Linked DNA regions of Homo sapiens. The protein of the gene in region 3 interacts with the protein of the main gene of each other region in a biochemical or structural test. Each region holds a gene or a part of one and is shown on either strand. Other genes may lie near its edges.

The links.
Region 1: the proteins of NUMA1 (region 3) and EPB41L1 form a complex in vitro, tested with the Homo sapiens proteins (one study listed by BioGRID).
Region 2: the proteins of NUMA1 (region 3) and EMILIN1 form a complex in vitro, tested with the Homo sapiens proteins (one study listed by BioGRID).
Region 4: the proteins of NUMA1 (region 3) and TNKS form a complex in vitro, tested with the Homo sapiens proteins (one study listed by BioGRID).

Annotation. Positions count from the first base shown.
Region 1 is NC_000020.11:36,150,224-36,157,757, reverse strand, and holds the start of EPB41L1 (band 4.1-like protein 1), read right to left. Parts: upstream 3,019-7,534; 5' UTR 2,862-3,018; intron 2,696-2,861; exon of another isoform or gene 2,504-2,695; intron 2,163-2,503; exon of another isoform or gene 1,998-2,162; intron 1-1,997. UniProt on the Homo sapiens protein: May function to confer stability and plasticity to neuronal membrane via multiple interactions, including the spectrin-actin-based cytoskeleton, integral membrane channels and membrane-associated guanylate kinases.
Region 2 is NC_000002.12:27,074,114-27,081,750, forward strand, and holds the start of EMILIN1 (EMILIN-1 precursor), read left to right. Parts: upstream 1-4,501; 5' UTR 4,502-4,952; coding exon 4,953-5,122; intron 5,123-6,037; coding exon 6,038-6,157; intron 6,158-6,618; coding exon 6,619-6,839; intron 6,840-7,637. UniProt on the Homo sapiens protein: Involved in elastic and collagen fibers formation. It is required for EFEMP2 deposition into the extracellular matrix, and collagen network assembly and cross-linking via protein-lysine 6-oxidase/LOX activity.
Region 3 is NC_000011.10:72,070,530-72,077,665, forward strand, and holds part of NUMA1 (nuclear mitotic apparatus protein 1), read right to left. Parts: intron 1,774-7,136; exon of another isoform or gene 1,699-1,773; intron 1-1,698. UniProt on the Homo sapiens protein: Microtubule (MT)-binding protein that plays a role in the formation and maintenance of the spindle poles and the alignement and the segregation of chromosomes during mitotic cell division.
Region 4 is NC_000008.11:9,747,912-9,755,047, reverse strand, and holds part of TNKS (poly [ADP-ribose] polymerase tankyrase-1), read right to left. Parts: intron 7,025-7,136; coding exon 6,836-7,024; intron 3,440-6,835; coding exon 3,202-3,439; intron 2,505-3,201; coding exon 2,422-2,504; intron 1-2,421.

The DNA.
Region 1 (7,534 bases), on a different chromosome or scaffold from region 3:
TTCTGGGGGACCCTGGCCAGGAAGGAGAAGGCCAAGGCTAATCCTTCTCTGAGAGCTCCTAGTCAGTACTTATCTACCCCTACCCCTCAGCACTATAGTAATATTCAGTCCACAAAGCCACCCTTGCCTCACCAGGCACACACACACACACCCCTCACACACCTCTCCACCTGGACTGGCCCTGGCCTACCAATGAATTGCCTGGCTCCACTGGACACCAACCTGGTACTTCCAGATATTGCCCCCAGTAAATGTCATGGTAGAAAGAAGGGCTCTGGACTCAGACCGCCTCGCACTTTCCAGCTGCGTAACTTTAGTCCAGTGACATAACCTCTCTGAGCCTCAGTTTCTCCTCTGTAAAAAGTGGATAATTAATCACATCTATCTGACAGGGTTACTGTGAAATGACTCAAAGCACTTCTTGCAGTACATGGCATACAGTAAGTTTCAATAAATACTATCACTTTGATTGTGTAATCATTGGTATTTATCTCCAGGCAGAGATGATCATCCTCCCCGCCCTTTTTTTTTCTTTGAGAGGGAGTCTCGCTCTGTCTCCAGGCTGGAGTGCAGTGGCACGATGTCGGCTCACTGCAACCTCTGCCTCCTGGGGTCAGGCGATTCTCCTGCCTCAGCCTCCCGAGTTGCTGGGGCTATAGGCGTGCACTACCACGCCCAGCTAATTTTTGTATTTTTAGTAGAGACGGGGTTTCACCATGTTGGCCAGGATGGTCTTCATCTCTTGAACTTGTGATCTGCCCGCCTCGTCCTCCCAAAGTGCTGGGATTACAGGCGTGCGCAATGGCGCACGCCTGTGTCCCCTTTTAACAAATGGGACAGAGAAGCCCAGAAAGGGGCTCTTAGGGAAGTCCCGGCAGGTGCTAACAAGCACCTCCCACCACAGCCTGAAGTCAGAAAACTCTCTGTTGCCCCCTGGAGGCTCAGGCCAGAACATCCCTGGGCACCTGGCATCCTCTCAGCTCTATGCACTTCCAAGAGGGTCCAGGACCACCCACGGCCCTTTCTCTCAGCCCTGACCTCTCCTGCTCACCTACTGAGGGCAAGGGCTGGGAGGCCAACATAACACCCCTCCTAAGGGATCAGGTAGCCTCAGGCTCCAGGCTACAATGCCTAGCCCTTGGCAGAGTCCTGTCTATAGCACAACCACCGCAGCAGGGAAGCCAGCACCTGAGCTGCAAGAGCCCCAGAACAAGAGGTGGAAGACCTGGGTACATTAATGCTGACTCCCCCGCTCAGCTGCTTTGTGACCTTGGCCAAGTCACTCTTACTCTCTAGGCCCCGTTCAACCTTTCAATATCGACTGAGTGAGGACTACCTGACCAAGCATTGTTTTCATGCAGGATTCTATGGAAGAAGCTCTTCAAGAAGCTCACAGGGCTGAGCCCAGGAGGACTGTCACATAGCCCAGGAAGGGCTTTAATAGGAACAATGCCCTCTGCACTGATCTCCTCCAGGACTGCCTTGAGGTGCCCCTGAAATCCCAGGGACTGTGCTCTGCATGCCATAAATACTATGCCTGGGTTGCCAGGCAGGCATGACCTCAGGCTGGCCAGGAGAAGCCAGCTCCATCCTTGCACAGAGCTGGCAGAGCCTTCCTGGGCCACGGTGGCTCATAGGGGAGGCTGGCACAGGCTGCCTCTGCCGCAGGCTCCATCTGGAGGAATGGGTGGGCAGAGAGGCACACAGCTGCCTCTATTCTCCACACCCTTGCCCGGGACAGGAGGCACTGTCTTCCAAGAGCTGCGGAGGGCACCATCCAGGCCCCAGATCTTGACCTGGCTCAAGTGCCACTGATTCTGGAAGGCTCCTAATGCTGAGGGTGGGGGGATGGGGTGGGAATGAAGCCAAGCCGCTGGACCCCGCACAGCCCTGGAGAGGTCCTAAATCTGGCCGTCTCACATTCCCACCTTTGGGTGCAGAGGAGGTGCTATGCGGATCCAGAAGTGAATGTGGGAACACGTGGTGCTCTCTCCCCCACCAATGCATCCTCAGAGCTCCGAGGGAAAAGCAACGACGATGGCTGGCAGCTGAGGGAGAGACCAGCATCCCCAGAACTCCCTTTTGGTCCTTGTCCAGACTTCAAGGTCTCCATGGACCACTTTGAGCCATATACGTCTGCCAGTCAGTGGCCTCTGCACCCAGTAAGTACCCCAATGGCTGTAGACATTGGCCCCCCATGCCCATCCCTGAGACCCCAGCCTCTCGGGCCCTTGGACCTCCCCAAGTGTGAAGGTGCCAGACACAAGTGGGACACACAAGCCCTCTCCCTCTGATCAGGGGACGGTCACTGGCCAGGACAATGCCAGGCCAGAACTGCAGAAGTCCTAGGGCTAAGATCCCTCCTAGCAGCTCTGAGGTACTTGGAAGGGAGACGGAAGGGGAGGCAAGCCCAGAGCGGGGAAGGGTCCGTAACCAGAGTGAGGAGAGATGAGGGCAAGGGCTCGCCAGCATCCCAGGCTCCAGCCAAGAACTCCTCCTGCAGCGTCAGAAGCAGCAGAAATCCAAAGAGCCCTTGGCCTCTGGAGGCGGCAGCAGGAGTGCTCTCCGAAAAGAGACTGGGCCAGCCGGTGGGAGCCCAGCGCCCACCCACCGCTCATCCTACAGCAGGACCAACCCCCCGCCAACCCCCAGCCTCCGGATCCTCTCTCCAGGCCTTGGAGGAGGCTGCAGACCGGTAGGTAGGGAGGAACAGCGAGACCCTCCCCCACACTGGCCAGGGGACCAACAGCCTGAAAACTCAGTTCTCGGCCTCGCCCCCGTTCCTCCCCAGGGCTGGAGGCTGGGCCTAGATGTTGCAAGCCCCCGGCCCCGAGAGCCACCTGATTCCCCCATGTGCCTACCTGGGCCCGGGGTTCCCCATGTCGGGCAGGTTGGGCGAGGGGCGGCCCCCTCGGCTCCTCTGGCAGGCAGGCCGCGGGGCGGGGCGGCGCGGGGTCGCGGCGGGCTCTGCGGAGCAGCCTGTTCGGCGACACCCCCGCCCGCTGATGGATGCCGACTGCAGCAGCGGCGGCGGCGGCGGCGGCTCGGCGTGCGCCAGGGGCTGGGCACGGTGCCCACAGCCCCGGGCCTGGCGCCCGACGCGCGGCCAGCCCCCGCCCCCGCCCCGGCCTCGGAGCCCAGCCCAGGGGCGGCCGCCGCTTGCGCCTGCCTCCCAGCGCGCCGCGGCCCTGCCCCTGCCTCCGCCTCCTCTCTGCCTGTCTCCTCTACCACCCACCTCCCCCCGCGCCCCGCCCTCTCTCTCAGGCTCCCAGGCCACCTCCTCCCGGTCCGTGCCACACGGGCAGTTCCCAGACCACTGCGGGACTGTGCAGCTGGGGGGCCTCTCGAGCGCCCCGGCTGCCCCCACCCTGGTCCTAGCCAGCCCCGGGCCTCCTTGCTCTCGCCAAGCCCTCTTGGGGGCTCATCAGCGAGAAAGGGAGGGGGAGGAGAGAAGAGGGGGATGCATGCCTGACTCAGAAGGGGTGACTCAGCCTCAGTGGGCCTCCCATCCCACCGGAGCCGGATCCCCTCACCACCCCTGCAGCACAGCGACAGGGCAGAACCCGCCTAGGACTCGGCGTCCTCCCCCACCGGGAGGAGGTATTACAACTGTCTCCTGGGAATCCTCTGTGCCTCTGAGTGTGTCCAGAGGGTGTCTATGTGTACATTTGTCCACATGCGCCTTGGTGACAATGACAGTAAGTGTAACAGTGAGAGCCCAGGGACCTATTGGGGATGGGGCCTGTGTACAGGCGCACTTGCTGTATGTGTCTGAGCACAGGCTGAGTGTGCACCTGAGCTCCAGGAAAGGGCAGGGGCTGGCCAAGCAGCTTGTGGCAGAGATCATGGCTCAAAACCAAGGTAAGCCATGCTCCTCCCCTCCAGGAGCACTGTTACCCACTAAAAAAACCAGTCCAACCACTGCAGCACCTCCATCTCACACAATCCGAAGGTGGGGACCTCAAGCCACAGAGGACTCTGGGAGGGAGAGGGCCTGGGTTCCAGTCCAGGTCTGCCACTGGCTCAGCAAGTACCCTTGGGCAAGTTGTTCCATGCTCTGGGCCTCATTTGCAAATGACGAAAGGGCTGGACGTTCCTATCTCTAGGGTCCCTAGTTCATGGCGAAGGCATAGAGAGAATGGTGGGTAACCGCAGCATGATCTCCAAAGATTTCTGTCCATGGGTCCACTGCAACCCATATGACCGCGAACCCCCAGTCACCACCCTCACCTCCAGGCATACACAACTATTCATTCATTCTTCACATCATTCCTAAGTACCTACCATGTGCTGGCCATAGTTCTTACCACAGAATCCACTGCCCTGGGAAGCACAGAGGCCCCAAGCTGGGAAGCAGCCTCGATGTGAGCTGAGCCCTCCATCCTTCCCTGATGCGATTCCCTCAGTATCAGCCTCACCAGTGGGCTCTCCATCTCTGCTTGTCACACACTATAGAGCCAGGCACCTCCCTCCCCCAACTCCTCCCTCCCAGTGTGCTGCTCCATCATGGTGACCTTCTACCCTGGGTCCTCATAGGCACTCTAGGGCCTCCAAAGAATGAGGCTATGCCCTCTCCTCAGCACCCTTTAGAGAACTCAAGATACAATTGCGTCCCTTTGTACCATGCCCAAAGCAAGCCTTCTCTTCTCCAACTTAAACCTCCTTCATCAGGTGTCTTTAGACAAAGCTTCCGGTGCCTTCACTCCCCCTGCTCACCAGGTTCAGCAGCGGATGAAGAGCAGAGAGCAGAATGAAGCCAGCTTCTCCCAGTCCTAGAGAACAGGCCCACCCTCCAGACAGAAGGTGGGAAGACAGACAAATCTGCCCAGGCCGACTGACAGAAGGACGAGTGTCCTGCTTGGCAGCCTTCTGTACAAATCCTGTCCTTTGCCTTTGGACTTCTCATCCCCAGGCCTTTCAAATTCACTTTTTCCCAGGAGCTCCCAAGGGAGTCTCACACAGGCCCCTGGGGCCGTGGCCTTGGGCAAGTCACTTTGCCACACAAGGTGCTCTGTTTGAGTTTAGCTCACCACACATTTATTTAAATGAATGAGTGAAAGGACCAATAAAACTCAGGAGTTATACCAGATGCATTTATTGTTTCAGATGCACAGCTGCTAAGAGATTCTTGACTGCCTGCCTTCAAGTATTTTGATTCCAAATAGGCTCAGTCTCCCCTGCTGGCTGAGCCTTCCCAATCGTGGGCTCCCGTGGGCAGGAGGCTCTGGGCTGCATGGCCAAGGCTCTCTCTGTTCCTCTTAGTTCAACTCTCCTTCCCTGGCCATCTCCCTTTCCTTCCTTCCCCCAGGCTGAAGCCCTCCCCACTCCTCCCCTGGGGCAGGGCCACTTTCCCACCCTCCTCAACCAGATGGAGCCTCTCACTTTCCCAGGAGAATCCAGGCTACACTCCAAAGACCGAGGCAGGATGTTCCCAGACATCGTTCTGCATTTATACCCAAAGGGCTCAATTCACTTCAGGTCATTGAGACCACACAGAAAATGAGGCTTCTGCTATTTTAATTATTTTGATTATTATTATTATTCACTAACATTTCTATTAGCACTTTCCAGTTTGCAAAATACTTTTGTGTGTCATCTGCACAGCATCTTGTGAGATAATATCATCCCTCATCTTTTTTTTTTTCTTTTTTGAGACGGAGTCTCGCTCTGTTGCCCAGGCTGGAGTGCAGTGGCGCGATCTCGGCTCACTGCAAGCTCCGCCTCTCGGGTTCACGCCATTCTCCTGCCTCAGCCTCCCGAGTAGCTGGGACTACAGGCGCCTGCCACCACCATGCCCAGCTAATTTTTTTTTGCATTTTTAGTAGAGATGGGGTTTCACCATGTTAGCCAGGATGGTCTCGATCTCCTGACCTCGTGATCCGCCCGCCTCGGCCTCCCAAAGTGCTGGGATTACAGGCGTGAGCCACCGCGCCCGGCCCCCATCTTATAAATAGGCAGGCTGAGGCTCAGAGTGGGAGTGACTTGCCCAAGGTTACGCTTACACAGTTACACTGGCTCCCTGGACTACATACTTTCCACTTTACCCAACAATAACCCTTTCCAGAAAAATCAGGCTGGAGGAAGCAGGAGAGACACTTAAGAATGTATGGCCCCCATAGGCATCAGTTGCAATTACTACTTGAGTTACTTGACTGTTTTCATTCCCCAGGCAGGGAAACTGAGGCACAGGGATAGGACTCAACCTAGGACCAAGTCTCATGGAGAAAGAAGGAAAGAGGAGCCCATCCAAAAAAGGGGTTCCTCAGTTCCTTAGCTGCAAATTCTGCTTCCAGCCCTAGCGCTACCATTTCTTTTTGTATTACTTAGGCAGGTTATTTGACATCTCTGAGCCTCAATTTTCTCACCTATAAAATGGGAGAATCCCTGCCCCATGTCTGTCACTGGGCTGCTGTGATGGGAGGTCAGCAGATGCTGGCAGAAGAGAAGGGACAGGACCCTTCATTCCCTCTCTGCTCTGTCTAGGAGGCAGGAGAAATTCTTTCCTCTTAAATTTTAACTGGATGGAACTTAATGGTGCAAAAGTCCAGGATACAGGAAAGCCAGGAGGAGAACGGAAGTGATTCGCTCCACTGGCTGGGAAAGCAAGGGACACAGAGTCAGCCACAGACCCCCAAGGTCACTGCGGGGCAGAGATTCAACCAAACACTTCAGGCAGGGCCCCTCCTATCTCCCTTTTATCTTTCAAAGGAGGAAACCAAGGTTCTAAGCAAAGCAGTGACTTGCCAAGGTCACCCACAAGTAGTCAGTGGTCTCCTGACTCCCAGCCACCAGGGCCCTTGACTACTGGGCAAGCAGGGTGGGGTGGGGAGCACTCCCAGCCCAAGGACTTAATCTTTCATTCAGCAAGCAGTAATGCTCACACCAAGCCAGGCCCTGGACACTGGGGAAGGCTGGAGGAATTGAATACAGCCTCTGCCCTTGAATTCACAATCAATCTAGTGGAGGCACGTACCCCAGCACATCAGAGGATACTAGAAGGTGAAGCACCACCATTTTCTGAGCACTTCCTCTGTGCCTGGCACTGGACACACATTCATTTGTTTAATCCTCAAAGCAATTCTCTGGCACTGAAATTATTAATCCCTTTCACAGCTGAAGTAACTGAGGCTCAGAAGGGTTAGCGACCCCAAAGTTCATCCAGCTAATAAATGGCAGGGTCGGAATATGACTGACAGGTATGTCTGGTGCCAAACTCTGAGCTTCAACCCTTATAAACTCCCTGTTTTTAGGTCTGTGCTAACCAATATGGTAGCTACTAGCCATGGCTAGTTGCTATGGAGCACTTGAAATGTGGCTCGTTCAAATAAAAATGTGCTGTAAATATAAAAATCAGATTTTGAAGATTTCATACCAAAAAGAATGTAATATGTCTCGGGCATGGCTCACACCTGTAATCCCAGCACTTTGGGAGGCCGAGGTGGGCGGATTACCTGAGGTCAGGAGTTCGAGACCAGCCTGGCCAACATGGTAAAACCCCATCTCTACTAAAAATACAAAAATTAGCCGGGCATGG
Region 2 (7,637 bases), on a different chromosome or scaffold from region 3:
TCTCTGTGATTAGTGTGACATTTTCAAGGAAAGGACATGAGGCCAGGATTAGGCTCAGGAGTGAGAAAGCAACAAGACCTGGGAGAAGGGGAACTGGGTTCAGGGAGGTCGGCTACTAAAGTATTAAACCTGGAGGAAGAGCTGAAAGGAAAAGTAAAGTGCATCTCTTTGGAGAAAAGTGGGCTTTTGCTCAAGACTCCCCACAAACTTGAAGTCCCATGTGGATTGGCATGACCCAAGGCCCAAATCACTTTTTTTTTTTTTTTTTTGAGATGAGTCTCACTCTATCACCCAGTCTGGAGTGCAGTGATGCGATCTCAGCTCATTGTAACCTCTGCCTCTCAGGTTCAAGTGATTCTCCTGCCTCAGCCTCCTGGGTAGCTGGGATTACAGGAGTGTGCCACCACACCCGGGTAATTTTTGTATTTTTAGTAGAAACAGGATTTCACCATGCTGGCCAGGCTGGTCTCCAACTCCTGACCTCAAGTGATCCGCCTGCCTCGGCCTCCAAAAGTGCTGGGATTACAGGCGTGAGCCACTGTGCCAGGCCCCAAATCATATTATTCCCCCTTTTTCCCTCCCAATATTCAGTCCTCTGACAGAGAGGCTAGACATAAAATGCTCCTTATTGCTGGTGCCCACGGCTGTCCTGACCCTGGTCATGAACTCTTGCTCAGTCAGTGAAGCTGAATGAATGAGTTCATTGCCATGTAGGGCCAATTGGCACTAGATGCTTGGAAATTACCCACCTTGGAGAGGTTGTAAAATAGATCATGTCCTAGTGCCACCAGCAACTTAGCTTTCTGGGGGGTCAGGAACTCTTACCAATTGCTTTGGAAATTTATGGCTGCCTGCCAGTACCACCACCAGCATGTCACTGCCACCATCACCACTACCACTGCACTCTAACTTTAGGCTCCATTGCACCCTGCTTGCCCACTCAAGCCAGCAAGGGGAAGCATCCTCCCTGGTGAACTCAGAGCCACTGATATGTTTGTGATTTCACAAACATTCATGACAGCTCCTAGGTCTCGTCTCCTAATTACATAAAGGCAAATGAAATGCAACCTACTGCAACTATATTTCAAAGCCAACATTTTTCACTGGATACACTTAAATTATACAATAGATTTTTGAATTTCAGAGGGTAGGAGAGGGAATGGGTAACAATTGGGCAGTGACAAGATGGCTGGGGTGACTTTTCAGGTTGCCAGAGGCTTCCTAAGGGTGAAGAGAGGGAGAAGAGCAGAGAGAGAAAACCCATAGCAGCAGCTGGGGCAATCTGGAGGGGAAGTGGGTTGGCTTCCTGCCAGGGCCAGAGCCAGAGCCTAGAGACCAGGGACAAAGCTGCAACCTTCCACCGAAAACTTCTTTGAAATCGGGATCTCCTGTGAACATTTCCTTCAAATCTCCCTGTGTGCTGATCCCCAGGGCTCTAAGGGGCAACTACAAATTTCCATTTCTGTTTGTTCCAGCATTTACTTTCACCAACCACCACCCCCCTTTTTTTTTTCTGAATCAGTCTCACTCTGTTGCACAGGCTAGAGTGCAGTGGCGTGATCTTGGCTCACTGCAGCCTCCGCCTCCTGGGCTCAAGTGATTTTCGTGCCTCAGCCTCCTGAGTAGCTGGGATTACAGGCACACACCACCACACTGGCTAATTCTTGTATTTTTAGTAGAGACAGGCTTTCGCCATGTTGGCCAGGATGGTCTCGAACTCTTGACCTTATGGGATCCACCCACCACGGCCTCCCAAAGTGCTGGGATTACAGGCATGAGCCATCGTGCCTGGCCTAATTTTTGTATTTTTAGTAGAGATGGGGTTTCACCATTTGGCCGGGCTGGTCTCAAACTCCTGACCTCAAGTGCTCTTCCCACCTCAGCCACCCAAAGTGCTAGGATTACAGGCGTGAGGCACCACACCCCGCCTGACCCTGTCTTTTCACAAACATTTCTCTTAGCCATCAAGGTCACATTCTGGGTCATAGGACATCAGAGGCAAGATGGTTCAGAGTTACATTGATGATTTGATGGCATTCATTCTCATGGCTTCCACCTATTGCCCTGCACATGTTGGAAGAATCAGTGGCCCACCATTGCTAACAATCCTAGACACTGGTTTCCACTAGGATGTGTTACTCTCATCTTAAATTCAGTATCTTCAAACTACGATCACTTTTCTTTCCTCCAAACCTGCTCTCTTCCCGACTTCCCCATCCTGGCTCAAATGCTGGAATCTTCCCTCGTGTCTCCCTTCATCTGGTCCCTCATTACTCAGGCAGTCACCAAGCCTCATTACTCAGGCAGTCACAAAGTTCCCTGCCTATCCATGGTCACTGTCACCACCAGAGCCCAAGTCTGCATCACTTTGCAATGTAGAATTTGGAAGGGACTTTAGATGACACATAGACTCCCAGTGGTGTCATGGGATTTGCTGGGTCATAGTGACAGGAGGAGCTGGGGCTACATTGCCTGTGTTCTGACACCGTATTCAGCGCTCTCACCCACAATACCTTCTTTCGTGTATGTGTATATGCTTCTACTCAAAAACTTGCAATACAACCTCATAACCAGTCATTTGAGCCTCTCCCTAATTTGTCCACAATCTACCTCTCTGAATTTCGGTCCCATTTTTTCCTGACACAAAAAAAAGAGCTAACATTGATTGAGCATTTACCATTTGCCAGACACTGTTCTAGAATGCTTTACATGCACTGACTTACTTAATCCTCACAAAGTGGGATGGAGAGTCCTGTTATTCCTGTGTTACAGCTGAGGAGACTGAGGCAGACCGCTCTTCCTGAGCCTGAAATCTCTCTCCTTGCCTTGTCTCTGTTCTTGACTCCTGCCCCCCACCCCCGCCCCCACCCCAATGCTGTTCAGCTTTTGTCTTTTCCAGCCTCTCCTCTGACTGTCTCCAGCAGCCAGCTGTCTTTTCCCTCCTCCTAGCTGGAACACACATCATCCCTCTGTCCTGCCCCTTGGCACTTTTTCTGTCCTGGCTTGTGACGGTTCTCTGTTTGGGGGCTTGTGTCCCATTCTCCAACAACCTCAGTTGCTCCTTAGTGGACAGCGTCTGGGTCTTACCTATGCCTTTGCTACCTGGGCACCTCCGCAGTGCCTGGCACACAGCATTCTCCTGTCTCCTTTCTGTCTAGTGCTTCTGTTTCTTTCTCCCAAGCATCCCACCAGCTGGAGACCCTGGTCAAGAGCTGCGGGTCAGATGGTGACGGGGACCAAGCTTTTAGATCAAGGTGGCGCAGGTGGAACTTTCAGGTCAGGCTGACGGCTCTTTGCCTGTCACTGAGAGCTATCAGACTTGCCTCCAGGCCAGGGACTGACTTCCTTTGGTGCTCTAAAGATAGGTCCCGATTTACCTCACCCCCACCCTCATCCAGTTATGGCCTGACCATCACCAAAACAAGCCCAGGACCCATTTTCATTTATCCCTTTAAGAAAGGTTCTTTCTCTTCCTGCCCACGTGCCCTCTACCGCTTGACAGAAGCCTGCTCCCCATTGCCAGGTGCTTTTCTTCCTCCTCCTCTTCTTCTTTTTTTTTTTTGAGACAGAGTCTCGCTCTGCCGCCCAGGCTGGAGTGCAGTGGTGTGATCTTGGCTCACTGCAACCTCCTCCTCCCGGGTTCAAGCGATTATCCTGCCTCAGCCTCCTGAGTAGCTGGGATTACAGGCGTGTGCCAACATGCCTGGCTAATTTTTGTATTTTTAGTAGAGATGGGGTTTCACCATGTTGGTCAGGCTGGTCTCGAACTCCTGACCTTGTGATCTGCCCACCTCAGCCTCCCAAAGAGCTGGGATTACAGGCGTGAGCCACCACACAAGGCCCTTTCTTCCTCTTCTGTCATCTGTGGATTTCCCATCTGCCTCAGTGGAGTCCTTGACCTTTTCCTCCCTGGCCCAGCAGCACATTCTCCTCTCCTCCTTTCTCCCAAGTCACTGACCTAGTATTTAGTGTGTGTTCTCAGCCTCACCATTGACTTGCTGTGTTACCTTGGACAAGTCACTCTCCCACTCTGACCTCAATTTTCACATCTCTAAAAGGAGACTGCTAGACTAGACGGTGAGTGAAGTCCTGCTGAGCCCTCCGAGTTCATTCTCCCTTGTCCAGTCAGTCCTTCCCTCCCACCCTCCCCTCTGGGCTCCCTCTCTGGGGCCCTCTCCCCCAGGGGAGGCCTGCTCCAGCCCCAGGGGAGCTGCGGCCCTGGCTCCTGTTCCCAGTCGGAGTGACCAGCCCTGGGCCTCCTTCCCAGCTTCGGCCCTGGCTCCATGTGGCCCATCTGAGAGGCTGGCCTCAAGCCCGGCGGCAACTCCACATTTCTGTTTTTCCTTTTTTTTCCCTCTTTCCCGGAGTTAACAAGAAGCAGATGTGGCGCACGATGGTTGGAGAGGTGGGGGGAGGAAGGGGGAGGCCGGACCGCCAGCCAGACAGGGGGGAAGGGAGGGGAGCCAGCAGGGAGGAGGAGGCCAGGGCCCGCCCCACAGCCACTCTCGCGCCTCCGAACAGCCACAGGGGCAAAGCCCTGTCACCCCCAGGATCCGGTCATCAGGGAAAGAGGACAGGGAGACCAGAAGAGGGCCAGCTGGGACGAGGGGGCGGACGCCCAGGAGGCAACTTCTGAGACGCAGCTCCTGAGAGGGGCAGGGACCAGGCGCGGGAGGCCAGAGGGGGCACAGAGAACAAACCCCCTCAGAAGTGAAGAGGAGAGCGGAAGGAACCGAGAGGGGACGGACAGGAGCTGAGGAGGAAAGAGGAGGGGAGAGGGGTCAGGCCAGGCAGCCAAGGAGAAGACGTGTGGCCGGGGGCTATCAGAAGGAAACTGGGACGGACGGGCCGGGCTCGGGCTGTCCTGTGGAGCAGCAGCATCCCCGGGGCCGGCAGAGGCGCCAGTGGCTGGGCGGGATGAGTCTCTGAGGGCCACTGTGGAGCGCCCCGCCATGGCCCCCCGCACCCTCTGGAGCTGCTACCTCTGCTGCCTGCTGACGGCAGCTGCAGGGGCCGCCAGCTACCCTCCTCGAGGTTTCAGCCTCTACACAGGTTCCAGTGGGGCCCTCAGCCCCGGGGGGCCCCAGGCCCAGATTGCCCCCCGGCCAGCCAGCCGCCACAGGTAAGAGTCTGGATCCCAGCCCGAGGCTTGGGTGGTGAGGAAGGGGTCAGAATGCCACCTCTGCCTGGCTCTCTGCTGTGTCCGCTAATGCAGGGCAGAGGGGGAGTGAGAAGCCCATCCATCAGGTGGCTCCTCACATGCCCACCTTCCCACGGGGCCTTTTCCAGGACCCCCTGAACACATATGTTCCTTGGGTCACCTAGGGGGTCCGCTCCCACATGCCCCAGGGAAGCTGCCCTGAGGGGAGCGGGCCAGGCCTTCCTGCCAGCTGCCCTCTGTATCCTAGCCCCAGAGCCTCAGGGAGAACTTTTGTCCCCTTCTAGGGCTCCCTTGACCCCATCCAGTAATCCATAATTCTGACACCACTCCAGCTCTGTTCCCTCCAGCCCTCCAGCCAGACACAGATCAGAGGCCGGAGTGAATGGGGCCAGGAGTATAGAACTGCAATCCCCAAGAGGGGCAGGCTCATCAATGGCTTATTCTCTACTTAACCCCAAGCTGGCCTGCCCGTCTTCTCCTGGAGGGGTGGGGTGGAAGCCAGTGTTCAGATCACCCACAGGGCCCGGGCTGGCTATGCGCACACAGCATGCCAATCTGGGGACTGAGACAGGCCCAGAAAGGGACACACATGATTGTGTACATTCAGAGGCTCCCCGGGACCCCACCACCATGAGGATTGACTGCTCTGTGGTTTTCCATTCTGCGCGTCTCCCCATCTTGAAAAGTCTTTATCTGCTCCTGCTACACAGGAAAGCGTGGGGGATAGGGAGGGTGGCGATGCCAAAGCCCTTGCTCTCACTGATCCCCAAGGGTTCTGCATCTTTGGAGCCTTCTTCAGCCCCTCTGGTAGCCCCTGGGCCCTCCTCCAGGGCATGTATCTTTGGTCCTTGGACCCAGAGGGGGTTGTACCTACAGGAACTGGTGTGCCTACGTGGTGACCCGGACAGTGAGCTGTGTCCTTGAGGATGGAGTGGAGACATATGTCAAGTACCAGCCTTGTGCCTGGGGCCAGCCCCAGTGTCCCCAAAGCATCATGTGAGTCCCAGGGCCGGGCAACGGGCCCTTGGTGGGAACTGGGCGAGGGCAGATGGTGGGTGGCTGACTCAGGGAGTCTGTATGAAGCAGGGAGCAAGGGCAGGACAGGGGCTAGGGTCACAGCCATTTTGAGGAGATACTGAGACAACAGTTTGGCTGGTGGGAGACTGAGGGCAAACCTGCCTCACGCGCCAGCCCCAGATGCCTTCTCTGGGATGGCTCAGGCTCAAGCAGAGGAGTTCAAGGTTCCAGCACAGGGCAAGGGAAGGAAGAGCAGGGATTTAACCCTTGGCCAAAAAGCTGACAGCTGTCAGCTAAGCAAGGCCACATGTTGGACAGTAAGAGGGACCCAGCCTGAGGGACAGGCCATGCCCACCAGCAGCTGCCCACCCCTGAGGACAGGGACCAGGGTCACTGACCGTACAGGGAGGAATAAAGAGGCCTCCTTCTGCCTCTGCCAGGTACCGCCGCTTCCTCCGCCCTCGCTACCGTGTGGCCTACAAGACAGTGACCGACATGGAGTGGAGGTGCTGTCAGGGTTATGGGGGCGATGACTGTGCTGAGAGTCCCGCTCCAGCGCTGGGGCCTGCGTCTTCCACACCACGGCCCCTGGCCCGGCCTGCCCGCCCCAACCTCTCTGGCTCCAGTGCAGGCAGCCCCCTCAGTGGACTGGGGGGAGAAGGTGAGTGTGGGAGCTGCTGCGAGGGTGGCAAGTTCCAAATGGTGATCCAATGCAATGGGAAATGTGGGGCCAGGCTGCTGGGGGAGTCCCCCGTGCTCTATGCCAGAGAGAAGAGAGGGGCAGAAGGGTTAGTGAGATCGCAGAGATTCCCTGCCCGTGTGTGTGTGTGTGTGTGTGTGTGTGTGTGTGTGTGTGTATTTGTGTGTCTGTGTGAGAGAGAGGGAGAGAGCACGCAAAAGATGGAGAGACTGAGAAAAAGAAGGCCAAAAAAGAGAAGGTGCTCGCACACGCCCCATGTGGCCAAGATCCTTCAAACAGCTGCAGGAGAAAGGGGCATTCCTTTGAGAAGCTTGGTCCGTGGGGACAGACAGTTGAGACTACAAATCCTAGCATGCATTGCACCTGACTACAGATCCCAGACCCCTCCGTGGCCTCTGGAGACCGCAGGTCCCAGCATGCAGCAGTTCCTGTGGCTTGCCTTCCCTCCTGCGTGCTGCACACCGGATGTGCTGTTTCCCTGCCCCGAGATAGCCTTACTATAATTATGCAAACAGGAACTCCTGGCCAACTCTCACCGTCCACAGAGCCTCTTCTTTGTCCCCGTGGTGTTGCAGGGAAGTGTCACCCAGTGGTAGCTACTGTTGTGGCATCCAGAGTGCCTCCCTACACTCCCATTTCGCCCCTCTTGACAGCCCCATGACAGAAGAGTGTCATTATCCTTTCGCAGAAGAGGAAAGAGTTTCCAAGAAGTTAAGAGGCACTCTGGGCAGGTGGAAAGGACATGGACCTGGGGGCTGG
Region 3 (7,136 bases):
AGGCCCAGTGGCTCACAGCGGTAATCCCAGCACTTTGGGAAGCCAAGGTGGGCAGATCGCTTGAGCTCAGGAGTTCCAGACCAACCTGGGCAACATAGTAAAACTCCGTCTCTACAAAAATACAAAAAATTAGCTAGGTGTGGTGGAGTGTGCCTGGGTCCCACCCACTTGGGAGGCTGCAGTGAGCTGAGACCGTGCCACTGGACTCCAGCCTGGGCAACAGAGCGAAACCACGTATCCAAACAAAACAAAATGAATGATCCAGTGGGGCACATGGCAGATCTAGGAAACGCTGCACCCCCCTAAAGGCATTCAAATATTTTAATTCAAATATTTATGTAGTGTCTCACTGTGAGCATCACGATAACCTTTTAAATAGTTATTAATACTCTATCTTGCAAATGAGAAAACTTCCCCAAGGTTAGGTAACTGGCAAAATGCTGGGCACAGTCTCTAGACCTGTCTGATGCCAAAGCAAGAGCTCTACACCATTAGGCTTCTAGCAGTGCAAACACCATGGAAGATACAGAACCCTCAAAGTCACTTTTCATGATACACAACCTTAATAGTAGGATGGGAAGCCCAAATCACAGCTTATCTAACCATATCCCAACTGCCTCCAATTCTGTTCATTTTCCAAACCCCATCTTTCTGCCAAAGTATTTCATTCCTAGTTATCCAAGTCCTACTGAATTCCTTCTTCTGTAAATTCCTATAGGGTTTATAGATTAGACAACACAAATAAGTGCTAAATTATATACTGTCTTGCAAAATCAGATACTGCTTCTATGTATTTTAGTGTCAGCCTCATCAATCAAACTATTGTATTAATCTATATAGTTCTTCTACCAAAAATGCCTAACCTGAATCTAATCAAGAAGAATCAGACAAATGCTATGAAAGACAAAAAGGCATTCAGATTAAAAAAGAACTGTTCAAAGTTAAAGCAGACTAAAGACATGATAGTCATGACAACTAAGTGCATAAATACATGCATGATCCTTCAATGAATCCTGAATTTTAAAAAACTCAATAAAAGACATCACTGGGAAAAGATGAGAAATCTGAACAAGTATTATATACTGGATGTATTGAATCAATGTTAAGTTTCCTGAGTGTTAATAGTACTGTAGTTATATAGGAAGATACCTTTTTCTTAGGAAATACTTGCTGAAATAGGGATTAAATAACATGATATTTACATCTAACAGTCAAAAAGATTCAGAAAATGAAGGATAAATAGACAGCAAATTTGGCAAAATGTTAATAGTGACTCTAAATGAGAAGTATATAAGTATTTGTTACATTATTTTGCAAAATATCTATAGGTTTGAAAATTTTCAAAATAAAATAATTTAGTAAGGAGGGAAATCCTGTATTATATACTTTTTTATATACTCAGCTCTGTGACAGATATAATAGGCACTCATTACTTTAGGTATCTGCTCACTACCTAAGGAAACTGGGCATTTGGAGGTCAGCAATCAGACAGAGTCCACTTTGCTGCAGCTCATGAGGGGTATAGTAGGAAATTCTTAGGGAATAAGAGGTTTCTCCAAAACTCACATTGTCACACCACAGGAAATCTAGAAAAGCAGGCAATTACCTCACTCCTCATTGAGGCCATCACAGAAGTACAGGCACTGAACAAATGCCCACTCGCTAGGCAGAATGCAGCTGCTGCCCACACGTTAGTACCCAGTGGTAAGGTGGATACAATGTGACCTCAGAGGACCAAGAGTTGAGGTCACATTGCATCCACCTTGCCACCGGGTACCAAAAATTTGACAATCTGCAAAACAAGTGTCTCTGGCCAGTCACAGGAAGGCACTCAAGTATCAAATAAACATGCCTGAAATATATGCAGTCTTTCCTCCTCACCAGATAAACCAGTCCTCAGCTGCAATAAGGCAGAAGAAATCTGCAAGGCTGAATCACTGGTATTTCCTGTGCAGACTTCAAAGAAACTGGCCCTTCAATAGGACAGAAAGGGCAGGCGACACAGCTGCCAACAGAGGCCTCAACCCAGGAGCATGCTATGCAATAATGCCTTCTCTCCCTTCTACAGCCATCAGATACCTCATTTTTACTTCTGCCAAATGGCCCCTTATTACCGCGACTGATTACCTAATAGCCAACCCTTTACCTTGGTTCTCTCCTCCCCTCAATGAGACCCAAGATACTGGCCTTTCTAGACAGCTCCTCCTCCAATTTGCCAGAGGAATTGTCAAAACTATTCCCCTGGCCAGGCACGGTGGCTCACGCCTGTAATCCCAGCACTTTGGGAGGCCAAGGCGGGCGGATCACACTGTCAGGAGATAGAGACCACGGTGAAACCCCGTCTCTACTAAAGATACAAAAAATTAGCTGGGCGCGGTGGCGGGTGCCTGTAGTCCCAGCTACTCGGGAGGGGAGGCTGAGGCAGGAGAATGGCGTGAACCTGGGAGGCGGAGCTTGCAGTGAGCCGAGATCGCGCCACTGCACTCAAGCCTGGGTGACACAGAGCGAGACTCCGTCTCAAAAAAAAAAAAAAAAAAAAGCTGCCTAGGCCAGGCACAATGGCTTACACCCATAAACCTAGCACTTTGCGAGGCCGAGGCAGGAGGATTGCTTGAGCTCAGGTGTTCAAGACTAGCCTGAGCAACACAGCAAGACCTTGTCTCTACTAAAAATCAAAAAAATTAGCCGGGTGTAGTCCCAGCTACACTACTTAGGAGGCTGAGGTGGGAAGACAGCCACTGCACTCCAGCCTGGGTGACAGAGCGAGACCCTGTCTCAAAAAAAAAAAAAAAAAAGTTGCCCACAGTAGGAGGTAGAGGAGAGGCCATTATTAAGCACACTCTCAGTAAACCATGAATCTGACAGAGCTACCCAAAACATCAATGCAGTCTTAAGCTGCATTAGTAGAAGATGACTCTATGCCCCACCTTTGAAGAGCAAAGTTAGAGGACTTGCAGAGGAAGAACACCAATGACCATGGCAAAGGGTCTAGAAGTATATCATTTCAAATATGGAGGAAGAACTACACACTTTTAGCCAGGGGAGAACAAGAAAACTTTTTTCAAATATACGCATAGCTTTCACATAGATGAGGAGAAAGACTTATGAGTCCACTATAAGAATACAAAACCAGAACTAATGAGTGGAAGTTACAGGAAGACTGATTTTGGTTTGCCACAGGGAAGAAATTTCAGCATGTTGTAGAAGTTCAGAATGTGGGATGTAGAACCCAGAATGCTTGGATTAGGATGTCAACTCCACCACTTATAAACTGTGTGGCTTTGGGGAGATTAATCTACCTGTGCCTCAGTTGCCTTCCCTGTAAAAGAGAATAGTAATAATAGAACTTAGCTCACAGAGCTTTAAGAAGTAGCTTCCGAGGCTGGCTGCGGTGGATCAGGCCTGTAATCCCAGCACTTTGGGAGGCTGAGGCAGGTGGATCACCTGAGGTCAGGAGTTCAAGACCAGACTGGCCAACATGGGGAAACCCGTCTCTACTAAAAATACAAAAAAAATTAGCTAGGCTTGGTGGCGCATGCCTGTAATCCCAGCTACTCAGGAGGATAAGGCAGGAGAATCGCTTGAACCCAGGAGGCAGAGGTTGCAGTGAGCCAAGATCACGCCATTGCACTCCAGCCTGGGCACCAGGAGCGAAACTCCATCTCAAAAAAAATTAACCAGACGGTAGTGGTGTGCGCCTGTAATCCCAGTTACTCGGGAGGCTGAGGCAGGAGAATCATTTGAACCTGGGAGGTGGAAGTTGCAGTGAGCAGAAATCACACCACTGTACTCCAGTCTGGGTGATAGAGAGAGGCTCCATCTCAAAAAAAATAAAAAGAAGTAGTTTCTGTAAAGTACTTAGAACAGTGCCTAGTTCACAATATACGCTGGAAAAAAAATGTTACCTATTGCTATTACTAAATGTTGATACAACAGACCAGGCTGGGTGTGGTGGTTTGTGCTTGTAATCCCAGCACTTTGAGAGAACTGCTTGAGCTCAAGAGTTTGAGACCAGCCTGGGCAACATAGTGAGACCTCGTCTCTACTAAAAATAAAAAGAGTTGCCAGGCACAGTGGCGTGCACTTGTAGTTCCAGCTACTCAGCAGGCTGAGGTGGGAGGATAGCTTGAGTCCAGGAGATCGAGGCTGCAGTGAGCTATGATGACGCCACTGCACTCCAGCCAGAGTGACAGAGCAAGACTCTGTCTCAAAATAACAAACAGGCTGGGTGCAATGGCTCACGCCTGTAATCCCAGCACTTTGGGAGGCTGAGGCGGGTGGATCACCTGAGGTCAGGAGTTCGAGACCAGCCTGGGCAACATGGTCAAACCCTGTCTCTACTAAAAATACAAAAATTAGCTGGTTGCAGTGGCACGTGCCTGTAATCCCAGCTACTTGGGAGGCTGAGACAGGAGAATCACTTGAGCCCGAGAGGCGGAGGTTGCAGTGAGCCAAGACTGTGCAATTGCACTCCAGCCTGGGCGACAGAGTGAGACTCCATCTCAAAATAAATAAATAAATAAATAAATAAATAAAATAAAAATAATATACAATACAAAAAACAGACCAGATAACCTGAAGCCCTTCCTACTAAATATGCCTAGAAGTGCTCAGAAAAATATAATAAACATCCTTCTAGACTGTGCCAGCTATTAAGGTATTGTCTCTCAGCTCCAAATCTACCCTGTTATGCTCCGCTTTGTGATGCTGGGGCCTGGACTCCACTAAACCCCATTTCACATTTGCCAGCTGGATCCCTGTCAACAGGGGGTGCTAAGGGGAAAACAGAAGACAAGAGAAGGCTACAAGGGACTTCCTCCTTCTTGTAGCCTGGTGTTTCTTGACAACAGAAGTTGGTTCTTCCCAGTTGCCTTCTAAACTCCCAAAACCAGCCTCCTGCCCCTCAAAGGCACCAGCATCAGCTAAGTAAGGCTCAACAGAAGCCAGCTCCTCCAGGTTCCTCCTATAAGGGCCTGAGAAACCAGCAGCACCAGGTAACACCCTCTCCAGAGAATCTGGGTACAGCTATTCCAGATCCCTCTAGACTTCTAGGTTCTGGTAGCCCCAACCTTCCTCCCTTTGTTTTTCAGTCCTGGATGAGAAAAATTCTTTATGCAGTTATTATATTGAAGTTACTTTAATATTCCCTTTCTGCTTTTTCAGCCCTCCACCAAGGGTTTAAATCAATCTCCTTTATGGAGTTCACTCTATTGTGTGGTTTCTGTTTTGCTGATTGGATCTGAACTGACATATAGATAAACTGAGCTCTCAAGAAAGTAAGAAAAATCCCCAGGAACCAGAAACAAATTAGTGAGGAGGATTAGCGAGCTGATGACATAGCTGTCCTAGCCGTGTATGGAATTTGTAACACCCTCATAGGTTCAGAAGACAGATCTTGAGTCCACAAAAGGCACTGAGATCCCTGTGCAGAGGCTGAGATTCTTAAGTTTATACTCAGTAAGATAATAGACTAGGAAAAAAAATCTGTCCAGAGAGAAATAAAAAACTTGCCTTGCTCACCTAGTGAGAAAGGAGGGAAAAACCGTCTAGGAATTCAAAACAGGCTGGGTGAAGTGGCTCACGCCAGTAATCCCAGCACATTGGGAGGCTGAGGTGGGTGGATTGCTTGAGCCCAGGAGTTCGAGACCAGCCCGGGCAACATGGCAAAACCCTGTCTCTACAGAAAATATAAAAATTTGCCGGGTATGGTGGTGTGCACCTGTAGTCCCAGCTACTTGGGAGGCTGAGGTGGGCGGACTGCTTGAGCCCAGGAGGCAGAGGTTGCAGTGAGCCAAGATCCTGCAACTGCACTCCAACCTGGGCAACAAAGCCAGACAGATCCTATCTCAAAAAATAAAATAAAATAAAATAAAATTCTAGGAAGCAGACATTAATATGTAGTGAAAAACAAACAAACGATCAGTGGTTCCTGGTATCAGGGTGAAAGGAAAAACGGACTGTAAAGAAGTATGAGAGCCGGGCACGGTGGCTCACGCCTGTAATCCCAGCACTTTGGGAGGCCGAGGAGGGCAGATTACCTGAGGTTGGCAGTTCAAGATCAGCCTGACCAACATGGTGAAACCCCATTTCTATTAAAAATACAAAATTAGCTGGGCATGGTGGTGCATGCCTGTAATCCCAGCTACTCAGGAGGCTGAGGCAGGAGAATCGCTTGAACCCAGGAGGCAGAGGTTGCAGGGAGCCGAGATTGCACCACTGGACTCCAGCCTGGAGAATAAGAGTAAAATCCATCTTAAAAAAAAAAAAGCATGAGAAATCTTTTGGGGGTGAGAGAAATCCTCTGTATCTTGATTATGGCTGCTGTTTACAGGTGTAGACATCTGCCAAAACTCAACTTTCTTGAAAATTATTACAGACACAAAATTGAAAACATGAGACAAAAACAAGATCACGAAAAACAAGCAGATTTGAAAATGAACCAAAGAGCACTTCTAATAAATGAAAAAGTTAGCTAATAAAAATAAGAATTCAAAAAACAAATTAGACCTAGCTGAAGAGTAAACTAGTATACTAGAAGATAGATATAAGGAAATTATCCAGAAGTTAACACAGAAAGATAGAAATGGAAATTATGAAAGAAAGAATAAGATGTAGACGACAGAATGAGGAAGTTCAACATAAGTTACGCATGAGATCTGAGAGAGGTAAAGAGGTAATGATTGGGAATTTTTACACAATTAGTGAAAAGATATGAAATTTCAGATTAAGGAATTACTATATGCCCCCAGTATATAGTGATTTAAGAAAATTAAATTCACACCATGTAATGGAAGTACAGAACACAAATGACAGCAAAGAAGATCTTAAAAACAAACAGAAAGAAAGACAGGTTACCCACAATAAAATAAGTTAATTTGCAAGCATAGTTCTCAAGAGTAACAACAAAAAGCCAGAATTTCAATGAAAAAACACTTTCAAAGTGCTAAGAGACAATAATTGGAAGCCTAGTACCCAGCTAAACTACCAATCAAGACTGAAAGTGAGCTGGGCACAGTGGCTCATGCCTATAATCCCAGCACTCTGAGAGGCCGAGGCGGGAGGATCACAAGGTCAGGGGATCGAGACCATCATGGCTAACACAATGAAACCCTGTCTCTACTAAAAATACAAAAAAT
Region 4 (7,136 bases), on a different chromosome or scaffold from region 3:
TATTTAGCAAAGATGTGTTTGAAATTTTACAATTATTGTGGAAATGATTTGGGAAGAACAGCTATAGCTGTAATATGGGAACAGCAGAGTATAATGGTTTTAAATCAGCTTTCACACCTTCAGTTAGGGAATAAGGATGAAGCAGTCTTACTATTTAGGATATTGTCCTAAGAAAGCTCCAAACCAGAGGATGAATAAATGGTTGGAAAAGAAAATGATTTTATAGACAGCAGTCTATAAAGTCCTAACCATTAGACGCAAAGGCACCTGTGATGCATCACTGTATTAAAAGCTGACACAGCAGCACAATATTACTGAGGATTTTAACTCTCTGAACATTTATAAGCATTAGGTTTTACAGGTAAAGGAAGTGATAGGATAAATGTCATTCAGCCCAATTTTACACAGCTAGTAAGAGGGTAAAAATAATTAGAATTAAGGTCTTCTTTTAGTCCAGTGCTATCCCTACTCGGCTGTTCTTATCATTAAGAGCATTAAAGATGAACTATAATGAAAAAATGTAGCTAAAAAAAAGAGAGAAAGCAGAAAAAAAATCTTAACAGTATAATTGATATAAATAAGAAAAAAGACCTGGTTTTTAAGTTAACTCCAAACTGACTATAAGCCTAGAAGGGAACCATAATGGGCCAAAGGTGCCAGTGAAATACTGGAAAATTATGTCATATAAAGAATAATTGAAAAAACAGATTTATTCTAAAATAGGGGAAGATGTGTAGAGGTGGGTGATTGAAAGGGTGACACCTCTGATAAGTTGACTAGGTCTTAAAAAGATATCTAGGGCCATATTATGTTGTAGTGGGCTGAATGGTGGCCCTCAAAATGATACGTCTATGTTCTAATCCCCAGAACCTGTGAATGTCACCTTCCTTGGAAGAAAAGTGTCTGCAGACGAAATTATGTTAAGGGTCTAGAGATGAGGAGATCACCCAGGATTATACTGGTGGCCTCAAATTCAATGCAAATGTCCTTAGAAGAGATAGAGAGGACAGGAAGGCAATGTGAAGATGGATGCAGAGACTGGAGTAGCATGGCCACAAGCCAAGGAAGCTGCCAACCATCAGAAGCAGGAAGAGGCATGGAATAGATTCTCCCCTACAGCCTCTGTAGGGAGTATAGTCCTCTGAAACTGAATACATATGTAGACTGGAGATTAGATCTCTGTGCAAAACAGGGTAAGCGTAAGCGTAAGCTGAAAACAAAGGAATTATACCTACGGGCAGATTTTGGCACACTTTAAGTTACAAGCATTCTATTACACCTGTCCCAAATTGTAACAAGATATCTTCCTTGGCTGGAGGACTAACATGGGTGTTATTATACAAGGGTGATCCCTACACCTGGGAGAATAATTTTTCTCTAAACACCTTTCCCATTCTTAAATTTCATGTATATCAATAGTCCATTTAAATTCAGGAGTTACCATCATTCAATATTTAAAGCTGATCATAATAATGAAAGCATACAATATTACAACTCCTTATCCTGTATGAAAACAGTAAAACAAACAGAAGAATCCTAATTCATAAATGCCCTAATGATGACTCCATCCTTAGACCTTCACAGACATTTAAGATGGATCCCAAAATAGGGTGGGTCTATTGGAATGTATGGCCAACTTTTGGTTTAATATTATTTAAGACTCCAAGTGGACAACAGAAACTTCATAAAGGGGCAATTTTTTAAAAGTGCAGTTGTCTAAGTACTACTGTGCTTTCCAAATTAATGGGCAACTGCTTCAGGAGCCTAGTCACATGAATAATGAAATGAGATGAATAAAGACTGACATTTTTCGGAAACAAACAACCAAGGACAATCATGAAAACATTCTTTTGAGGTAGTTGCATGGTCTAAGTTTTGACATGTAATAAAATGCATAGTGCTAGACTGCTTATAAAGATAAAATAAAGACTCATTTGTTAGACAATTTTGGGGAGAAGTATAAAATACTGGGCTCCTCTGGCTTCTTATAGAAATGTGTTGTGGGTTTAAGAATAGCTCGTAAGAAGCAAAAGAGGAAGAGGTGGGTGGCAATTAATAAGTCTTTCTTTTTTTTTTTTTTTTCGAGATAGGGTTTTGTTTTGTCGCCAAAGCTAGAATGCAGTGGCACAATCACAGCTCACTGCAGTTTCAAACTCCTGGGCTCACATGATCTTCCTGCTTCAGCTTCCCAGCAGCTAGCACTACAGGGGCCCAGTAAGTCACCATGCTCAGCTAACTTAAAAACTTTTTTTTTTGTAGAGATGGGGGTCTCGCTTTGTTGCCCAGGCTGGTCTCAAACTCCTGGGCTCAAGCAATCCTGCCGAAGCATTCCAAAGTGTTGGGAGTAAGGTGTGAACCACTGCATCCAGCCTAATCTTAGTATTTAATTTAAATGACTCAAATATATACAAGAGTATTTACCTGTTCTGTTTCAAAGATATCCCGAAGGTGTTCAAGGCCAAGGCTTTTTAGAAATTGGCTGATATTCATGTCAAGACCAGCAACTAAAACAGAAACATATTAAAGATTCTCAGAAAGAATTCTCTAAATATAAAGAAAATTTCAGTATCCATTTAGACATGACTCTGACAACCTTGGCTGTCAGATGATTTTCCATGGCATAAAATAATACAGAATACACAGATTTAATTTAGACACTTTATTTCTGAAGTTGATTGGGAAGTAAAAACAGAGTGTTTTATCTTTATCAAATTAGTATTTGTATTCTAATATTATGGTTAGAATATAGAATTATAACTTATTGTAATTTATAAAAATATAGAGAATATTATACTAATTTTAACATTATAGTATAATTCTTATACTACAGAATGCTACTTATATAGAAACATCTAAAGCTTTTAATGAATTAAAAAATCTAAATGTATCAGCTATCATTTTAGTTTTCATTCCTGAAATGACCTCTCAGTTGTGTTCTGACACAATTTCAGTATAAGTGGTTCAATAAGATGCTATGGTTGTAAACAGATGCTCTAGAATATACAGAAATAAGAACAACGACAATGCCAAGAAACGTGGCAGCCTTCTATGAAGAAATATTTCTTGTAAGATGTTGTGTGTATGAAAATTTACAGACAGGACGTCTCTAATTGAGGCATTCAATAGTTATCAATAGAAAAAAGTCATTCTGCTCCACTAACAAAAGGTATAAATAAATAAGCATTCATGGGGTCTACTCACCTTCTCCTTCCTTCCTTTCTGTTCCCGCGGCGCCATCCCCTGCATTGGAGGCTCCTCCTACGGCCAACTCTGCTAAAGGGCCAGTGAGGTTGTCTATGCTGCTGGCAGCCGAGAGGCAGGAGGGGGTGGATGCTGGTGAGATCAGAGAGGCACTCACTACAGTAGCCTGAGGTTTAAAACAGGTAGGTAAGGCCTCTGGGGGCATGGCATCTATCAGCAAAGCTCTGATATCGTCAGCCTAAAAAAATGATTAAAAACAAAAACCATGAAAATACTATATATTAAAATGGTAAGTTTTTCACTGATAACCAAATACTTTGTGGATTTTTTCCTTAATGAATGCCTCATTATCACCTACTGGTTTTTGATCATTCCTTCTCCTATCCACAGCTCCAAAGAGTTTCAATAGTTTCAGTAGACAGAATTGGAGAAACTATGTAATTTTTAAAGATATTTCTTCTTTCATTTAAAAAAAAGCACTTTCAGTGTTAACTGTCACCCTTCTTTAGAAAAAATTTCTGTGTTTACTATATTTTGTTTACGTTTAAACAGCTATAATCTGGTTATTTACTTCACACTTAATAATTTCATGTACAATTAACATCTGGTGAAATTTCAAAGGGATGACACTTTAATTTAGCTCATTTATTCATAAACTTTTCAGTTTTTAAGTATTAGATGCAACTGCTTTTCGAGTATGCGGGAGATAGTCTCCAAAGACAGCCACCCATCAATTCCTTCCTCCCGTCATGTATGCCTCCCCTTGAATTTCTGCCCCCTACCCGCCGAATGTGGTTTGCCCTGTGAGTTGTCTTGACCAATAGAATGGAGAAGAAGTGACATTCTGAGGCTTTTGAGCCAGGCTTTAAGTGGATTGGCAGTGTCTACTTTTACTCTCTTAGAAGCCATCTGCCATGTTGTACAGAAGTTTGGGCTAGACTACTGAGTGGTGAGATCCTATGCAGGGAGAGCCCTGCGGGATGAAAGGCCATCTTGGAAGCTCCAGCCTCTGCTGAGTTCCCAGGTGCAGGTAACTGCAAAACCAGAACCACCCAGCTGAGCCCAGTCAACTCCCAGACGTGTGAGAAATAATAAATTGTCACGTTAAACCCTCAGTGGGTTTGGGGGTGGCTTAGTGGGCAGCAATAGAGAAATGAAATGCACACCAGTACCTGGAAGTGGGGTGCTGGTGGACATGTGGCTTTGGTTGGAGGCGTGAAGGGTGGCCTGGTTATTGCTGAGGGAGGCTGTGAATGGAAGATAGATAGGCAAGTGCTACTGAAGGCGAGAGAAAGGGGACTAATGCTGTGTAGCAGAAAGTTTGGCAACGCTGCCACAGGAGGTCTTACGGAAGGTAGAACGTAAACCTAAATAAATTTGTAAATTTGGCTAAGGAAATTTCCAGAACAAATTCTGCCTTGTCAACTGGACTGGTGTGTTTATCTGCCCATGATAAGGTACAGGAAGAGAGAAAGGAACTGTCCAGTTCTCTTTAAGGAAATGTATTCACCTAACATTTGCTAGCTTAGAAAACAAAATTATTCACCATTCCCAGCCTCTCCATCAGCAAAAGTTTCTTCAAGTAAGGCACAGCCTCAGGCCAAAGGTCAAATCCAGCGTGCTGACAGGAAAACATGGCCTCAGAATAAAAATCAACTAGAGGTACAGATATATTACCTCAAAATCTTTAAAAAACCTCTAAGGTGGTACCTTGTGAATTCCCTTGGCTAGATGAAAGAGCTTCAAAGGATCTTATGGGCATTGTCCCACTGCACCTTTACTTGGATTCCATGTTAGAGAGGGACCTGTCTTGAAAAGATTTGTGGGTGGAGCTTTTGGCTGATGGAGTGGTGTGTAATTTGATGGGAAATCCAAAAGTTTACAAAGGAAGAGTTGTACTAGTTTGGACTAAAAGGGACAGGTAGATCAAAATGATAAAAGGCTCAGGGTCCCGAAAATTTCTAGGAGCAGGGAACAGGTTGAGAAAGCCACTTGGCTGTAAATATGATCCATTTCTTATGAAAAGAGAAGGATAATTCAGAGGGCATGGCCAAGAGCTACAGAGGCTATGTACAGTGGTTCACACCTGTAATCCCAGCACTTTGGGAGGCTGAGGAAGGAGGCTGAGGGAGGAGCCCAGAAGTTCAAGACTAACCTGGGCAACATAGCAAGACCCTGTCTCTACAAAAAGTAAAAACAAAAAAAATAGCCAGGCATAGTGGCATGTGCCTGTAGTCCCAGCTACTCAGGAGATTGAGATACGAGGATGGCTTGAATCTAAGAGGTTGGGGTTGTGGTGAGCCATGATCACGCCACTGCACTCTGGCTTGGGTGACATAGCCAGACTGTGTCTTAAGGGGGAAAAAAAAAAAAAAGAAAAGAAAAAAAAGGAAAAAAAAAGACAGCCACAGTGAACCACTCCCTGGGAGCAGAACTGGGCCCTAATCAGGGATCATTCCCTAACTCCAGAGTAGATGGCCCTGATAACATGTGTCTGGCTGAATTTTAGAATTGCTAAGGACCCAGTGATGACTATCTGCCCCCTGTTGGTGGGGGGAGCACGTGGCAGGTGAGTGTAATTTGAATGTGGGAAAAATAGATTTAATTTGTATTCACAGGGAAGACTGTGGCTGATTAAAGATGGCCACGAAATTTTTGCTTCTCCTTTCAAAGAAGGTGGAATCTGTTTTCCTATCCCTTGAACCTGAGCTGACTTCATGACTTGCTTTGCACAACAGAATGTGGCAGAAGTGACAGCATGTCAGTTCCAGGCTTAGCCTTAAAGAACAATGACAGCCTCTGCTTTCTCCCTCTTGAGATACAATTATTCTGTGAAGAAATTCTAACAAGACCACTTAATGATGAGATGCCACATGGGACTAGAGAGGCCCCTGCCTTCTAGTTGTATCTGTCAAGGCCCCAGGCATATGAATGAAGCCGTCTTTATGTTTCTGCCCCAGCCACCAGCTATATGCAGTTGCACAAGTGACCCCAGGTAAGACCAGAAGAATCTCCTAGCCAACATACAGAATCATAAGAAATAATAAGTCATTATTATTTTAAGCCACTGGGTGTTTTGAAACAGTTTGTTACGCAGCAATCAATAAATGAAACAGAACATAACTTGAAAAAACATTTCTGGCTTAAAAATTAGAAATTACTGTGACTATACAGTAACTCCCTGGTTTTCAGAAAGTTCACGGAAGATGATGCAGTGCTTAACTTTGCAGTTAAATAATACTGCCCAGAGTTAATTTTTCTTTGACTATCTCACAGACTTAGGTAAATTATCATGAACATTAGTTGCTCTACAATAACATGCCAAATATAGAAGGTACAAGATATTTTACTAAATATAATTCTTTGAGGGTACACTCTAAAAACATGTTTTCTTAAGATCCATGTTTTCCCAGCAGGCTAAGAATGGCAAAAAATTAAATTAACTTACTGTTTAGTTTGTCTTAAGAGTTTTAAATTATATTTTCATAGAAAAAGTGTGAACTTCAAAAATTTTCAGAAGATCTCTGTTCTAAGTGAAATAAACACGACTAAAAGTAAGCTGGTGAACCCGAGAATCTGATGTCATCTGTGAAAGTAGAAGGAACAATAATCAGTATCTGAAATGAGGACTTACTGTTGCCAGATCCAGAGGCGTCTGGCCTTCCTGGTTCTTCATGGTGGGGTCTGCACCATGCGCTAGGAGGAGGGCGCACAGCTGCGTCCTTCCTTTCTGGGCTGCTTCATGGAGGGGAGTAAACGCCCACTTATCTGTTGCATTTACACACGTGTTGTATTTTATCAATAAAGCCGCTATGTCAACATGCTGAAAAAAAAGAAAAGGATACAAAGAGTTAAGAATGAGATCATCTGGTAAAGCACCATTGTGTATACCTGTTTTTATTTAACAATTCACTCCTCTGTATCTCCATTTTCAT